2 linked regions of the Homo sapiens genome follow. The protein of the gene in region 1 interacts with the protein of each later gene in a biochemical or structural test. Each region holds a gene or a part of one and is shown in the gene's direction. Other genes may lie near its edges. The genes, in order: ABCE1 and RNASEL.

Region 1 (8,280 bases):
AACTCCAAAAAAAGTGAAAAAAAATAGAGTACCCAAAAGCTGTGGGATAATAACAAATGGTCTAGCATATGTATAATTGGATTCCCAGATTCTTAGAAAGATAATAGAGAAGCAATAGGGCAAAAGAAATAATTGAAGAAATAATGGACACAATGTCTTTTACAACCTAGTCTCAAAAGTCATATACCATCAGTTTTGCCTTATTCTACTGGTCCCAGAAACCAATCCTGACACAATTTGGAAGCGGTCCACAGAAGGGCATGAATACCAGAAGGCAAGGATAACTGGGGACCATTTTGAAAGCTAGCTACTACTAATCTGGTGAATGGATAAACAAACTGGTACACCCATATTGTGGAACAGTAATCAACAATAAAAAGGAATAAACTACAGATATGTGCCCCAGCAAAACCCACAAGTGAATTATGCTAAATGAAAGACACTAGACCCAATAAGCTACATACAGTATTTATATCGGCATTCTGGGAAAGGCGAAACCAAAGGGACCCAAAACTGAGCTGTCAGGGGCTTGGAAAGGCCCAGAAGACTGACCATAAAGAGACATGAGGGAACTTTGTGGGATGATGGCAATGTTATATATTCGATTATAATGCTGCTTATATGACTGTACATGTCTGTAAAATTCACAGAACTGTACACCTAAAAAGGGTAAGTTTTATAGTATGTAAATTATACCTCAAGAAAGTGCTCATAGAAAGACAGAGAAGGGAATCTTGAGGGGAAACAGAAGAGGCTTGGTTGAGAGGATGGATACAGGAGTCATAATGTGCAAATAATAAAAGTTTCTGAAAGAAAGATGACTACTAAACTAATAACATTATAAAGTCCCTCAAGCTAAAGAAATTTCTCCAAGCTTGAGTCTGCAGGTGAAAACTGCCTATAAAATTATGGGTTACAAGGGTGAGAAAAGATATCTGGCAAATGCCATGAACTCAAGAATAAAGAGAAAAACCTTAGATGCTTCCAGAAAAAAACAAGTTACTTAGGAAAAAAAAAAAAGAGAGGTAGGCATAGGCCTTTATATCCACAACATGGCAAAAGAAGATAGTGAAAGAGCATTCATAAATTTTTGAGAGAAAAGGACTGCCACCCAAGAATTCTATCCCAACAAAGAGTAAAAGGAAAGTATTTTGGCGTATGTTATCACTCATTTATCCAATTGAGAGAAACGGCCAAAAAAAATAAATGAATAACAACTGAATCATAGTAGAGATAGAGGAGGAAAAGAGAAGACCTTATGACATATGTAATTAAATCTAACTAGGGAATAGTAAAGAAATTGGACAGAGATATATGATAAAAAAAAATTCAGTGCATTAGAATTAAAATAAAGCATCTAAACAAAAGGAATATTAAAATCAGACCAGTGTACAGTAGTATCTTTATCTGCAGTTTCATCTCCGCAGTTTCAGTTACCCTTGGTCAATCATGGTTCAAAATATTAAAAGGGAAATTCCAGAAACAAACAATTGGTAAGTTTTAAACTGTGTACTGTCTGAGTAGTGTGAAGAAATTTCTCACCATCCTGCTCCATCCCACCCAAGACATAAATCATCACTTTGTCCAGCACATCCACCACTTTGTCCAGCACATCCACCACTTTGTCCAGCATATCCACACTGTGTATACTACCTGACCGTTAGCCATCAACATCATCTGCTCCTGATATCCAATCATCAACATCATCGTGGCTTGATGATCCAGAATCACCAGAAGCAGATGCTCCTCCTTCTGAAGTATTGTCAGAAGGTTAATAGTAGCCTAACACTACATCACAACACCTACATTCTTCACCTCACTCGCTCTCATCACATAGACATTTTATCTCTCACATCATCGCAGGAGGAAGGGTACAATATAATATTTTGAGAGCGAGAGAGACCACTTTCACAAAACTTTTATTACTTTATTACTTCTATTGTTATAATTGTTCTATTTTATTATTAATTATTGTTAATCTCTTACTGTGCCTAATTTATAAATTACACTTTATCACAGGTATTTATGTATAGGAAAAAACATAGTATTAATATAGAAAGGGTTCAGTACTATCCATGGTTTTAGGCATCCACTGGGAGTCCTGGAATGTATCCCCTGGGATAAGGGGAGATGCCTGTACAAGGAAACTGCAAGTGACTATTTCCAACAGCTTTTTTGTTTGTTAGTTTTTACCTGGTTTGCAAGATGAGAGTGACCAAACAGCTTGTGACCCAATTTCCCGTACTGTTCCAGTCCTTTCCAACTGCTTGGGGTCAGCACCAGGAGGTGTCTTGTTTGGTGTAGTCATTTTTAAAATATTCTATGTAGAAAACAAGAATGCACACATTGTATCAGGAACTGGGCATCTTTCTACAAAAGTTTTTTACCAAGAAAAATTTAATGGAACTCATATACCCTGACATTAATCATTTATTCTGAAGAATGCAGTTAATATAATTAAATCACTGTAATTTAAATCTTAGGGGCTGGGCATGGTGGCTCACACCTGTAATCCCAACACTTTGGGAGGCTGAGACAGGAGGATCATGTGAGCCCAGGAGTTCAAGACCAGCCTGGACAACATGGCAAGACCCCATCTCTATTTTTAAATAAATAAAAATCTTAGGAATTCAGGTTTTGTTTCATATGACCAGATATGCAAAGCAGTGAGCTATAGTAGTCAAAAGAGCACAGAATCAAAGTTTTGGCTTCAGTATCTCCTTTAATCAGCCTAGACTTTGAGTAGGTCTGGGCTTTATTTCCTCTCCTGTTAAAGAGGTTCACTTGATGATTTTTACTTCTACAATGCTATGCAGTTCTATAATTCTGTGCCTGAAAATTCAAATGACTTTTAGCCCTAGAAAAGTCAGACTGAAATACTTTTATTCTAGGAATATATAAATATTGATCCTCATTTTATTTACTTAATTCCTTTTTTTTTAGAGACAGGATCTAGCTATGTTACCCAGGCTGGTCTTGAACACCTTGCTTCAAGCGATCCTCCCACCTCAGCCTCCCAAGTAGCTGGGATTACAGGTGTGATCCCATCACCCCACTAAGATCCTCATTTTAAATATTCATTGAGTGATGCAGAGAACAGTCATACCTGCCCTCTAGCTGTCAAAAGTTTTATTTAAGACCCAGCCCGGTGGCTCACACCTGTAATCCCAGCAGTTTGGGAGGCCAAGGCAGGTGGATTGCTTGAGCCCAGGAGTTCGAGACCAGCCTGGAATATGGTGAAACCCTGTCTCTAAAAAAATTCCAAAAAATCAGCCTGGTGTGGCGGCACACACCTGTAGTCCCAGGGGGGCTGAGACAGGAGGATCACCTGAACTGGGAGGCGGAGGTTGCAGTGAGCCGAGATCGTGCTACTGCACTCCAGCCTGCGTAACAGAGCAAGACACTGTCCCAAAAAGCACAAAAATAAGAAAAAAATGTTAAAAGTTCACTTACATATGCTCTTACCATAGAAGATAAGGTCAGGAAAATGGCTTCAAGATTTTGAAGTGAATAACTGGCCCATTCTAAAAAGGTTGACCTCATCTTTCACATCTTTTGTTAATTTTACTAAGTCTATTCATATGTGAAAAAACACTTCAATACTGGATCGTGAACAATATGTAAAACTGCTTTGGTAGCGCAGTTACTGCTACTGAACATTGTTATATATGCTATTCAAAATAGGTGCAATAGTTCTGCATACCGTTTCCTTGACACCTCCCATTGTATCCGAAGTTGTTCTTTAATCGGCACACAAGCACTTGATACTTACTAAATAACGGCAGACACAACGGACTGTAAACTTTGGCAAGGCCTGAGGCTTAAACGCTCAATAAGTAATTTACTGAATGAATAAACAGATGAATAGGTTCAGTTATGAACTAGTTGTCACTTGCCTGCAAGTTAGGTGAGATCTAGGGCGAGACTATTCAACCTGCAACCATCATTACTAACTGAATGTCCTGTTACCTAAAAAAAGATAGAAATAAAGCCCATCTTTAGGGCAGAATTCAACTGCCGGACTTGGGACTGGACGCCACCAAGTGGATAAAATATGGAGCTCGGAAAAGATTGGATTCCCGGCCCTGAACTGACCACACAGTTGAGAGGAAGTTGAGGCCTAGAAGAGCGCGCAACAGTAAGCCGTGTCGGCACCAGACTCTGTTGGTCCTACTGACACCTCCAGCGTTAGAATGACTAAGGCTCCACTCCTGACCCACCGGCCTTGAGGAAAGCGCAAACGTAAAAAAAGATTGAAACCGGAGAGGCGAATGCATCTGTTTACGCTAGGACCACGCTCGACGTCGGAGAAAAGCCCACACACTCACAGTTTCCAGACCTGGCTGCTTGCCGAAACTCAGATTCTCGGCACCTCCAGCAGCTGGCTTCGCCAACGGCGTTGAACAAGGGTCGCAGCTCAATGACGTCATATCTCCCTACCTACCTCCAGGGTTCCGCCTCACGCTCTATGTCGCGCGCGCGCACTACGTCCTATGGCTTGCGCGTGCGGCGGCTGGGCACCGCCATTTTGGCCGGTGGCCGTGAGAACACGCTGTGTGGCTGAAAAGTGAAGGCAAGAGCTGATTTGGCCTCTGTGCTCCCCTCCGCAAGGGGATCGTTTTCTCCAGGTACGTGAATAGCCCGGAGAGGTTTGGCCGTTAGCTGCCATCTGCCAGGTTGGAAAGAATGTAGGGACGTTCTCCGAGAGCCTTTGGTTAGGCCTTAGGTGGCGGAGACAGCAGCAGCGCGTGGCAGCGGTTCCTGCGGGACAGCTGGAACTGATGGAGCGCGGGCGACGCCGAGAGCTTGGGGGCGCCTCGGTCTTCCCCTCCAGCCGACCCGGCTGTCGCCGCTGTTGCCTGCCACACCCGCGAGGGACTTCGAGAATGGACCTAGATGCCGTAGTCTCCACTCCCCCTTTACCCCACTCCCGCCCTGAAGCTAAACCTGCTGGAGAGGAAGGCACCTTTAGAACTTACAGCACTCTCTAGTACCCCCACACTCCTCCAGCACCCAAAATGGATATATTGTCACATGTGCATATTTGGTTGTGGGAAGTCGTGGCTTCCACGTTTTGTTGAGTGGAATGAGTCATGGCATCTTGCCGCCATGAAGTCGAATACTCGCTGTCCACTCCCAGGCTTTATAGAAATGATGCCCACATGTCACTCTGCTTTTCTCAGAACAGCGTGTACGCAGCTATGACTGGGGTTGTCCCAAGTAGTTTCCCAGTAGAAATCCTATAGTTTTTTTGGTACGCTTTTGTAGCACTAGGCACTTTCTCCCCTTACCCGTTTTTCCTTTTATTGTATCTAATACTCATTGAGATCAAGGTTGATGTCTTTACTCAGAATACCTTTATTATCTCTTCAGGGCTTCGTACATTGTAGGCATTTAATACGTATTGTGAATGAATGACAGCCAAAGCCGAATTCCCACCTCCCATTAACTACATAAGCTTATTTTCTCTTTTTTGATGGTAAAAATCTATAAGAGGAAGAACTGTCCAAATAACATGTTTTATTTTTTTACTCTTTCCCAACAGGACTGCTAACTAGTCATTTATGATAGTGGCATTTATGTTGCAGTAGTTTGTCCCATATTCTGAGAATATTCATTGTATACCAGCCACCTGACACTAATACTTTGTTAGTGTAACCAAAGGCTCAGAACCTGTATTTGAACCAAAAGCTGTTTGGGGTTTGTGAGCTTTTTGAGAACTTAGTTCTCCCCTATTTTAAAAAAGGGAGTTTTTTTGTTTGTTTGTTTGTTGGAAGAGCATCTAACAATTGGGAGAGAGGGGGAGAAAACAATATTAAGTTAGAGTTCTTCTAAATGTCTTAAACTTAAAACTCTTTGAAATCAGAGCCGTGTACCACTCCTAACTTCTACGTGTTTTGTAAGACTAATAAACTACAATAAGCATGGGTTAGACTATTTCATGTGATACTAAACATCATTAGTTAACAGCAGTCTTTGAAATGCTTTTACACAGCGTTACAATTATTTTGGCTTTAGACTGTAAATGCTTCTAAGTATTCCTCACTTCCTTTTTTCCTCTCAGCTGTAAGAATGACACTGAGGGTCATTGTTCTAGTGTCAATTTTGAACACTTTTGTCTTCGAATCTGAAATATCCGCAAATCCTTCTTTGTTTGCAGGAGCCTGTTAACTATAATCTTCCTCTCCAAGCTTTACTGTGCCTAGGTTTTCTATTGAAAAACAAGTAGGGAATCCCCTTGCCCCAATTATTGAAACTGATACAGAAATTGAATTAAAAGTGTTCACACAGTTAATTAACAGTTCTACAAAGAATCCATGTTCATTTTTCTTAAATGCATTACAATTTATCACTATTTTTATATAAATCAGTTTATTAACCACTTCTGGTATGTTTTTATTCTACTGTAAAAATCAAGCCAGGGTAGTGACATGCACCTATAGTCCCAGCTATTCGGGAGGCTAAAGCAAGAGGATCCCTTGAGCCCAGGAGTCCCAGTCTGTAGTGTCCTGTGATCACTGCCCTCAGCCAGGACACCATAGCAAGATCCCTGTGTCTTTTTAAAAAATTGTCTTTTACAGTCTTTTGGTTTTTAAAATAGTTTGAAAAATTAAATATTTTAGTAGTTTAACAGAAATAAAGTTTAAGCAATTTCGTGGTGATTTATCCCCTGGAGGGGAATTCATTATGCTCTTTCACTGAGTAATTGTAGAAAGGCATTCAGTATTTAAATTAGAATGCATGGTGTCCAGTTTTAATAGCTTGCTGAAGAATCTTCATTTCCTAGGAAGTTGTCATTTCCCGAATAATAGCTTTTTTGTGACAATTCAAGCCATCTAATTTCTTCCTCTTCTAATCTTTACAAGACCTGGACCAGTTTTTAGAGGAATAGAGTCAACCTGTTTATTGGAATAACCCTGTACTTATTACATGAACATTTAGTCTCCTTTTGAATGATTTTTTTTTTCAGTATGTAGTTTAGTGGACAACTGTCACTATAAAATATTGGTAACTTGCAAGATTTCTAAAGTTGTTATAACCTACAGGAAAATTATTTACTATATTTAAATTCATATTCTCATTCATTTAGCAGAAATGCTTGATCTCCTGTGTGCTAGGCACAGGTTCAGCCACTGGAATGAACAAAAATTCCTACCCTCATGATGGATGGAGTACATTCTACTTGGGGAGGGGAAAAATGTGTATGTGTTTGTAGAGAGACAATATACATACACACACCCACGATAGATGTGTGCATATACACCAGATATATATAAAAAAAATATATATATGGAATATATAGTATGTCATATAGTTGAGCTAGGGAGAAAAATAAAGCAAGAAAGAAGGATGAAGAGGCAGTTGGGTGTATTTTTCGGTAGTGTATATTGTGGTAGTGTAGTTACAAAAGGCTCACTGAGAAATAGTAAAGATTGAAAGGAGTAAGCCATGTAACTCTCTAGGGGGAATAGCATTACAGGCAGAAAGTGCCAAGATCTTGAAGCAAGAACATGCCTGGCATGTGCTAGGAACAACAAAGAGCCAATGTAGCTGGAGCCATACAAGAGCTAGAGTAGTTGGAGATGAGATCAGAAAGTTAACAGAGGCTGATCAATGCCTCATTGATTATTTTCAGGACTTTGGCATTTACTCAGATTGAGAATGAAGCCATTGCAGGATTTTAAATAGAGGAGTGACATGATCTAGCTTACTCTTTAAAAGGCTTCCTATGGTTCCTGTGTTGAGAATGAACTGTTGAGGGTTAGAGTAGAAAGAGGTGAGGGTAAAAGCAAAGAGATCTGTTAGGAAGCTATTTGAGTGATGCTGGTAAGAGATGATAGTGATAGCTTACACCAAACTCATGAGATCAGATTCTGGATGTTTTATAGCTTCAGTGGGATTTGCTGTTATTAGGTGGAAAAGAAAATGACTTCAAGGATTTGGGCCTGAGCAAATGGAAGACTGGAGTTGCCATCTAACAAAATGGGCAAGACTGCTGAAATTTTGGTGAGGATATCAGGAGCTTAGTTGGGAGATTCCTCTTAAGCCTTCCAGAGATGTTAGGTGGGCAGGAAGGGTTCAAGAGAGGTATGCTGACTAAAGATAGAAATTTGGAAATTTGCAGTATATAAATGGAATTTAAACCTGTGAGACCAGAATAGAACAACTTGGGGAATGAGTATATGTGGAAAAAAATGACCAAGTCTTAGAGCACTCTGCATTTAGAAGCCTGGGAGATGAAGATGAGTGACCAGGAAAACAGTAGAAAAACCAGATTAG
Region 2 (8,078 bases), on another chromosome or scaffold:
GCAATTTATTCCTAAGCTTAGAGAAAATCTCTGCAGTCCCAGCGATCTTTCTTGTCAAAGGAAGGAAAGGTTAAGAACATTGCTTAATTCTAACATCTTGAGTGTGGGAAGGAGGGAGCCAGAGGGAAGGAGGAAGGTATCCTTACATTTCACCTTGGCCTTGGTTTCTCTCTCCATGTTCCCAGCCTGGAATTCGCATCCACTGCTGGGAGGGGTCTCTTCTGCTCTTGGTGATTCTGTCTTCAGAGTCTGGGCCTCTGAACCAGCAGCGACTGGGGTCTCTTTGTGGACAGACTGATCTCTCCTTCTGCCAGGACTGTTGTCAGACTCCACCTGTCTCTTGGGGCACCCCCCTCCTTGATACTCCTGGCTCCCATGGAACAAAACAATTCTGCAGAATGCCAACAATAATTGATGATGTTGTCCTATGACTACAGTGGAACAAGACAGAAATAAGGCCACTTCTTAATGAGGACTGAACACGAGGTGAAGAAAAGATGCCATACCACCATAAAAGTAACCAACACCCCCTCTCCTGGGTAACATGAGCCACCTGTTCCTTGAGCAGTGACAGTGCTAGCTACACTTTGTTCCTCCTGATTCCTAGATGATCATAATGAAGGCACCAAAGTGCTTCTGCTTCCTGACACCACCCAATTGAGAACAAACCTCTATTTCCTTAAACCCTTCCCCAAATCACCTGACAAAAAGCTCAAACCCTAAAATAAGTATCCTGATTCCCTTTTAGAAGATATCCTGGGGCTGGGTGGAATGGCTCACATCTATAATCTCAGTGCTTTGGGAGCACAAAGCTGGAGGATTGCTTGAAGCCAGGAGTTCAAAATCAGCCTGGGCAACACAGTGAGAACCCATCTCTACAAAAAATTTTAAAAATTAGCCGGGCATGGTGGTGCATGCCTCACAATGGGTCCTAGTTATTTGGGAGGCTGAGGCAGGAGGTTCACTTGAGCCCAGGAAGTTGAGGTTGCAATGAGCTATATGATCTATATGATTGTGCCACTGCACTCCAGCCTGGGTGGCACAGCAAGATCATGTCTCTTAAAAAAAAAAAAAAAAAGCAGGGCGCAGTGGCTCATGCCCATAATCCCAGCACTTTGGGAGGCTGAGGTGGGCGAATCACAAGGTCAGGAGTTCGAGACCAGCCTGGCCAACATGATGAAACCCTGTCTGTACTAAAAATACAGAAAAATTAGCTGGGCGTGGTGGCAGGCACCTGTAATCCTAGCTATTCGGGAGGCTGAGGCAGGAGAATCGCTTGAACCCAGGAGGCAGCAGTTGCAGTGAACCGAGATCACACCACTGCACTCCAGCCCAGGTGACAGTCCAAGACTCCATCTCAAAAAAAAAAAAAAAAATACTCTGCAGTTCCTGGGATGAGTCCTCCCTCGCTGTAGTTGGTAATACACTTGCCTTGGTTTCACTGTAGGTATGATTCTGCTCACTAGACTTTAACATATGTCATTATGACCAGAAAGGTCAGCATTCTCCAAGAGTTTTTACCAAATCATCTGTTCAGGACAAACTAACATCCACTGTTACCACTATGCTACCACCCTGGTCTGGGCCACCGTTGACTCTCAGCTGGATTATTGCAATAGCCTTCTAACGGATTTTCCAACTTCTCCCTTTGCTTTCAATCCCCAGATTCTTCTCAGCACAGGACTGATTAAGATCCTCTAAAAAAAAAGCCATGGAGATCATGTTACTCCTCTGCTCCAATACTCCAATGGCTACCATGTTGTTTAGTGTGGAAGCCAAAAGCCTTACAACGGGCCCTAAGGTCGCGCCTGACCTGAACCTCTGCTTATCAACTCCCCTCCCTCACTCTGCTCCAGCCTCACTGGCCTCCTTGCTGCTGCTTGTTCCCACCAGGCATGCTCCCACCTCAGGACCTGTGTGCTTGCTGTTTCCTCTGTCTGCTGTGTTCTTGGTGCAGACATCTGCATAGCCTGTTGCTGCATCTTCCGCAAGTCTTTGCTCAAACGTCACCTTCTGAACAAGACCCTTCCCGACTACTTTGTTTAATATCCCCATCCCCATCCTGGCACTTTTAACCCTCCTTATTCTATCTTAATATTTTCTGTAGATTTGTTGCCTACAATACACTACATGATTTACTTATTTTGTTCATTATCTTGCTTCAGTAAGAATGGGGGCAGGGGCTGGGCATGGTGGGTCACACCTGTAATCCCAGAACTTTGGGAGGCCGAGGTGGGTGGATAACTCGAGGTCAGGAGTTCGAGACCAGCCTGGCCAACATGGTGAAACCCTGTTTCTACTAAAAATACAAAAATTAGCCAGGCATGGTGGCTCATGCTTGTAATTCCAGCTACTTGGGAGGCTGGGGCACGAGAATCACTTGAACCTGGGAGGTGGAGGTTGTGGTGAGCCGAGATCACACCACTGCACTCCAGCCTGGGTGACAGAGCAAGACTCCATCTCAAAAAACTCACACCTGTAATCCCAGCACTTTGGGAGGCTGAGGTGGATGGATAATGAGGTCGGGAGTTTGAGACCAGCCTGACCAACGTGGTGAAACCCCATCTCTACTAAAAATACAAAAATTAGCTGGATGTGGTGGTGTGTGCCTGTAATCCCAGCTCCTCAGGAGGCTAAGGCAAGAGAATCGCTTGAACCCAGGAGACAGAGGTTTCAGTGAGCCAAGATCGCGCCACTGCACTCCAGCCTGGGTGACAGAGTGAGACTCCGTCTTGAAAAGAAAAAAAAAAAGAAAAGAATGGGGACAAGCTGTTTCTCTGTGATGTTCAGTGATATAGATCAAATCCTTAGAGCAAGTTACTTAACCACTTTATGCTTCAGTTTTCTTATCTGCAAAACGGAGACAAAAATAGTATATACATCATAAGGATAAGATTAAATAATTTAATACATATATAAAGTGTTCAGAACAGTTCCTGGACCATATTAAAGAGCTATGTAAATGTTTGTCATTATTAACAGAATCATCCACATTTTCATCACTCTTACTAATATCATTAGTTCTGGTAGCAAGGCAGCATAGGTCAAGATATAGAGGTAGAAGCATATGACATAATGTGACAAGGAACTGGAGGCTAGCACTGATGATGCCCATGAGGAGTAGGGACAGGCAGGGACTGTATTATAACCTGAAATCATGATATGTTGGGTTTTTCAACTGTTTATGATCTATTTCTGCCTATTAAGATGCAAGCTCCTAGAAGAACTCTGTGAGGAACTGGTGTGGTAAATCATTCTATGCCAGATATGCAGAATAGTCACTGGTAACATAGTCAGTGCTCAATAAGTTTTTTTTTTTTTTTTGAGACGGAGTCTTGCTCTGTCATCCAGGCTGGAGTGTAGTGGTACTATGTTGGCTCACTTCAACCTCCACCTCCCGGGTTCGAGCAATTCTCCTGCCTCAGCCTCCCGAGTAGCTGGGATTACAGGTGCACAACACCACACCTGGCTACTTTTTGTATTTTTAGTAGAGACGCGGTTTCACCATGTTGGCCAGGCTGGTCTTGAACTCCTGAACTCAGGTGATCTGCCTGCCTTGGCCTCCCAAAGTGCTGGGATTACAGGTGTGAGCCACCACGCCTGTCCAACAAGTATTAATTAAATGAATAATGGGTTAAGGATTTTTGAACTTTGTCCTGAAAATGATGGTGGGTCAATGATGCAGGGTGGAACAATGGATGAAGGGCTAGGAAGCAAGTCATCAATTTCTTGCTATAAATGATGACAAGGACTCGAATGGTCATCCCTTTGTAGATGAAAGCAAGAGACTTGGTGTTGGGATGAGGATGAGGGGTGGCCTCCGGGTGATGGTGCCATCTGTGGAGATGGAATAAGTGGGAGGAGGGGCAGATTTAGGAAAAGATGAGTATTTCCATTTGACACATATTCAAGATTTGTAGGTCTAAAGCTCAGCAGAGAGGCTGGGGTTAGAGAGCGAGGCCTGGGAATCCCTGGTGTATAAGGGGTGGTAGAGGCCCCGGGTCTGGATGGTGTGACACAGGTGGTCGTCAAGTGACCATGCACTACTTGTTGTTCACAAGTCCCAGGGCTTTGTCTCCCCAGCAAGACTGGGTATTCTTTGGGGATGGAAATACTTTCCACTACAGCACTAAGTACACAGTACACAGCTCATTGCTAGGAAGATAGTCAAGAACAGAACTTGTAGAGCAGAAAGGAACCTTCAAAACCAAGTTATAGGAGAGAACTGAGGCCCTACATGGTTAAATCACATGCCTGAGGTCACTCAGCTAAGCAGCCACAGAGCTGGCTGTAGGATCAGGTCTCCAGACTGCCAGTCCGGTACCCTTCTGAGAAGGCCGCACTGCCTCAGAGCTGTGAGTTGAGTGAGCTGAGAAAGGTGACAGGGCTTGGGCTTTGGGCTTACTTAGCTTCTATGAGCCTGCGTTTCATAATCAACAAGATTGTCAGGGGTTAACTGGGACCATGCTGCATGTAAAGCATTGTGTCTGGAACACAATAGGTGCTCAATATGTGTTTACTTTCCATTCCTTTCTTCCAAGAAGACCAGAATTTGCAATGACAAAGAAAGGATGCAAGAGTGATGGATGCAGTTGGCTGCTGCCACCTGAAAGGCTGCAAGACTGAGAGGTGAGTGACATGACCCCGGGCATCACATTCCTCATCAGCAGACAGAAAGTGGCTATTGCTTTCCTCCAGAAGGTGTGCAAGTAGAAGCTTTGCTCCTGGTGCCAGAGTGAGCCTGTGGCTGCTTTCCCTCCCACACTCCTCACTCCTTTCTTGGCTCCGCCCTGCTGACTCAGTGACGCAGCAGGAGGAAACTGCTCGGGCTGCAAGCAGTCTTCCAGGCTTTGCGGCTGCCAAAGGAATAATTGAGACGTCTGAGTTGAGCAGGTAAGGCAGGCAGAAGGAGGAAAGCTAGAAAACCTCGATAAGTCGATCCTGAAGAATTCTTGGGCTTTGGAGACTGGAGAGGCCAGGGGCTGGAGGACTTGGGAAGTGGGAGGGGAGCTCCCAGCCCTTGGCTGCCCGGAAGGATCTTCCTCCAGTGCCCTTCCAGAGTTCTGTCAGAGTCCACACGTCATTTATCCATGTCCTCAGTTTCTCAGGCATCTCTTTGCGACTTACTCAGGTCGCACAGAGAAAGTGAAATTGAAAGCAGGATTGTCTGTTGGAGTACTTCCGCAGGCTCGTCTCTTCTCTACTCTGATGCGTCACTCAGGGCTTCCTTGATATTTCCTCTCCTTCCCGGCTCCTTTGTTTATACCAGCCCACCTCACATCTGATTGTAATGGGGACGGTCTACACAAACACTTTGGTTCAAAGATTTCATTGCCTGGTGATCGTGTATGTGTTGCACAATTAATTAAACTTCTAAGAGGCTAATCAATTAACCTCTGAGGCTTTGAAACTGTCAGAGTGGTGAGATTGCTGAAAAAGGGTTGCTTCGTGAATTCTATAGCAGATGCAGTTATTTAAATATTCAGGTAACAGTTTCGGGCTGTCTGATGATTGAACTGGATCTGTAATTCTCAGATCTGATTGACAGTTGGACGAAATTGATAGCTGCCAGTTGCCTATTCGTGTAGTAGCTATATGCACATGTGTAGGGAGAATAGAATTCACTAAGCAATTTATTTTTTCATAACGGGATATAATTAGCTCTAACATTCATTGAGTGGCTAATATTTGCAACACTCCATACTTTAATGTACTTTACACACATGACTGTATTTATTTTTGTCTCCATTTCAGGAAATAGAAAATTGAGATTCAACAATCCAAGGTTACAGGAAGTAATAGTAAAAAATTACACAGCCACAAGCTCAAACTTAGATCTCCCTAAGGTCAGAGTACAAGCTCTTTTCACTACTGCAGATACTCCTTGACTTATGATGGGGTTACATACAGATAAACCCATCCTAAATTGAAAATATTGTAGGTCAAAAGCACATTTAATACACCTAATCTACTGAACGTCATAGCTTATCCTAGCTTACCTTAAATGTGCTCAGAACACTTACATTAGGCTACAGTTGGGCAAAATCATCTAGCTCAAAGCTTATTTTATAATAAAGTGTTAAATGTCTCATGTATTTATCGAATGCTATGCTGAAATAAAAAACAGAATGGTTGTATGTGTACTTGAAGTGTGGTTTCTACTGAATGTTTATTGCTTTTCCACCACTGCAAAGTCAAAAAATCATAAATCAAAGTCAAAAAACATAAGTCAGATATTGTCTGTACTTTAAATAGGGGCACAGGGTTGTACAAAGAGGACATGCACAGAGTCAGCAAACACAGTGATCAACCTTCCTGGTGACATAAGAAATGCAAAGGGAAAAAAAGCCAAGAAATATATTTTTCTTATTGAATGAGGGTTCTTCTTTTTTTATTGATAAATAATTGATGTGCATATTTTCATGGTCTTTTTTTTTTTTTTTTGGAAGCCACCTATCTCTGGTAAGAATATATTTATATGACATTGAAAGCAATTTGTTAATATAGGTTAAGAATCCTAAATACAATCATATCTTTTGAATAGTCATTAAATTCTTTGAAGTCTATCATATGAAATCTATCATAAGATCTATCGAAAGAAAATAAACTAAAATAAGCTGAATTTGCTGCAACATCATTTAGATTTTTTAAATTTTTAATTTTAAAAAACCCTTTAAAACTTATTTTTGAAAACCACTCAGTAATAGAGAAATGAAACAACTGTATGATTTCATATTACATAGTCATGAAAAATGTTTTACAAGACTTTGCAATAACACAGGAAATGACTTATAGTATGGTATTAAATGAAAGGAAGTAGGATACAGTTACTTACAGAGTATAATTCCAAATGTCTTAAAAAATATATAGAAATACACTAAAATATTAACATTGGCTGTTTCTGGGCATTGGGACTAGAGAAATAATTTTCTTATTTTGAATTTACATATATTTATAATATTCTGTAATTTAAAAGTTTTATAAGAAATAAATATATGTATTTAGAAAAAATGCTAATATAATTAATTTCTCTGATTCAAGTGTTTTCTCCCTATTGTAAAATTACAAAGCACCTCTCTTCGTTGCCAGGTGGAATGTCAGAAGACTGAGAACATTGTTCCTTCTTCATACTGCTGCTCTGTTGCCAGAGAATCCCAATTTACACTCAAAGCTTCTTTGATTAAGTGCTAGGAGATAAATTTGCATTTTCTCAAGGAAAAGGCTAAAAGTGGTAGCAGGTGGCATTTACCGTCATGGAGAGCAGGGATCATAACAACCCCCAGGAGGGACCCACGTCCTCCAGCGGTAGAAGGGCTGCAGTGGAAGACAATCACTTGCTGATTAAAGCTGTTCAAAACGAAGATGTTGACCTGGTCCAGCAATTGCTGGAAGGTGGAGCCAATGTTAATTTCCAGGAAGAGGAAGGGGGCTGGACACCTCTGCATAACGCAGTACAAATGAGCAGGGAGGACATTGTGGAACTTCTGCTTCGTCATGGTGCTGACCCTGTTCTGAGGAAGAAGAATGGGGCCACGCCTTTTATCCTCGCAGCGATTGCGGGGAGCGTGAAGCTGCTGAAACTTTTCCTTTCTAAAGGAGCAGATGTCAATGAGTGTGATTTTTATGGCTTCACAGCCTTCATGGAAGCCGCTGTGTATGGTAAGGTCAAAGCCCTAAAATTCCTTTATAAGAGAGGAGCAAATGTGAATTTGAGGCGAAAGACAAAGGAGGATCAAGAGCGGCTGAGGAAAGGAGGGGCCACAGCTCTCATGGACGCTGCTGAAAAAGGACACGTAGAGGTCTTGAAGATTCTCCTTGATGAGATGGGGGCAGATGTAAACGCCTGTGACAATATGGGCAGAAATGCCTTGATCCATGCTCTCCTGAGCTCTGACGATAGTGATGTGGAGGCTATTACGCATCTGCTGCTGGACCATGGGGCTGATGTCAATGTGAGGGGAGAAAGAGGGAAGACTCCCCTGATCCTGGCAGTGGAGAAGAAGCACTTGGGTTTGGTGCAGAGGCTTCTGGAGCAAGAGCACATAGAGATTAATGACACAGACAGTGATGGCAAAACA

What was found.
Region 2: the proteins of ABCE1 (region 1) and RNASEL form a complex in vitro, tested with the Homo sapiens proteins (one study listed by BioGRID).

What each region holds. Positions count from the first base shown.
Region 1 is NC_000004.12:145,093,792-145,102,071, forward strand, and holds the start of ABCE1 (ATP-binding cassette sub-family E member 1), read left to right. Parts: upstream 1-4,519; 5' UTR 4,520-4,628; exon of another isoform or gene 4,629-4,780; intron 4,781-8,280. Other genes in the region: ANAPC10 (anaphase-promoting complex subunit 10), read right to left, coding at 2,194-2,320, 3,454-3,543. UniProt on the Homo sapiens protein: Nucleoside-triphosphatase (NTPase) involved in ribosome recycling by mediating ribosome disassembly. Able to hydrolyze ATP, GTP, UTP and CTP. Splits ribosomes into free 60S subunits and tRNA- and mRNA-bound 40S subunits.
Region 2 is NC_000001.11:182,585,982-182,594,059, reverse strand, and holds the start of RNASEL (2-5A-dependent ribonuclease), read left to right. Parts: upstream 1-4,803; 5' UTR 4,804-4,893; intron 4,894-7,089; 5' UTR 7,090-7,253; coding exon 7,254-8,078.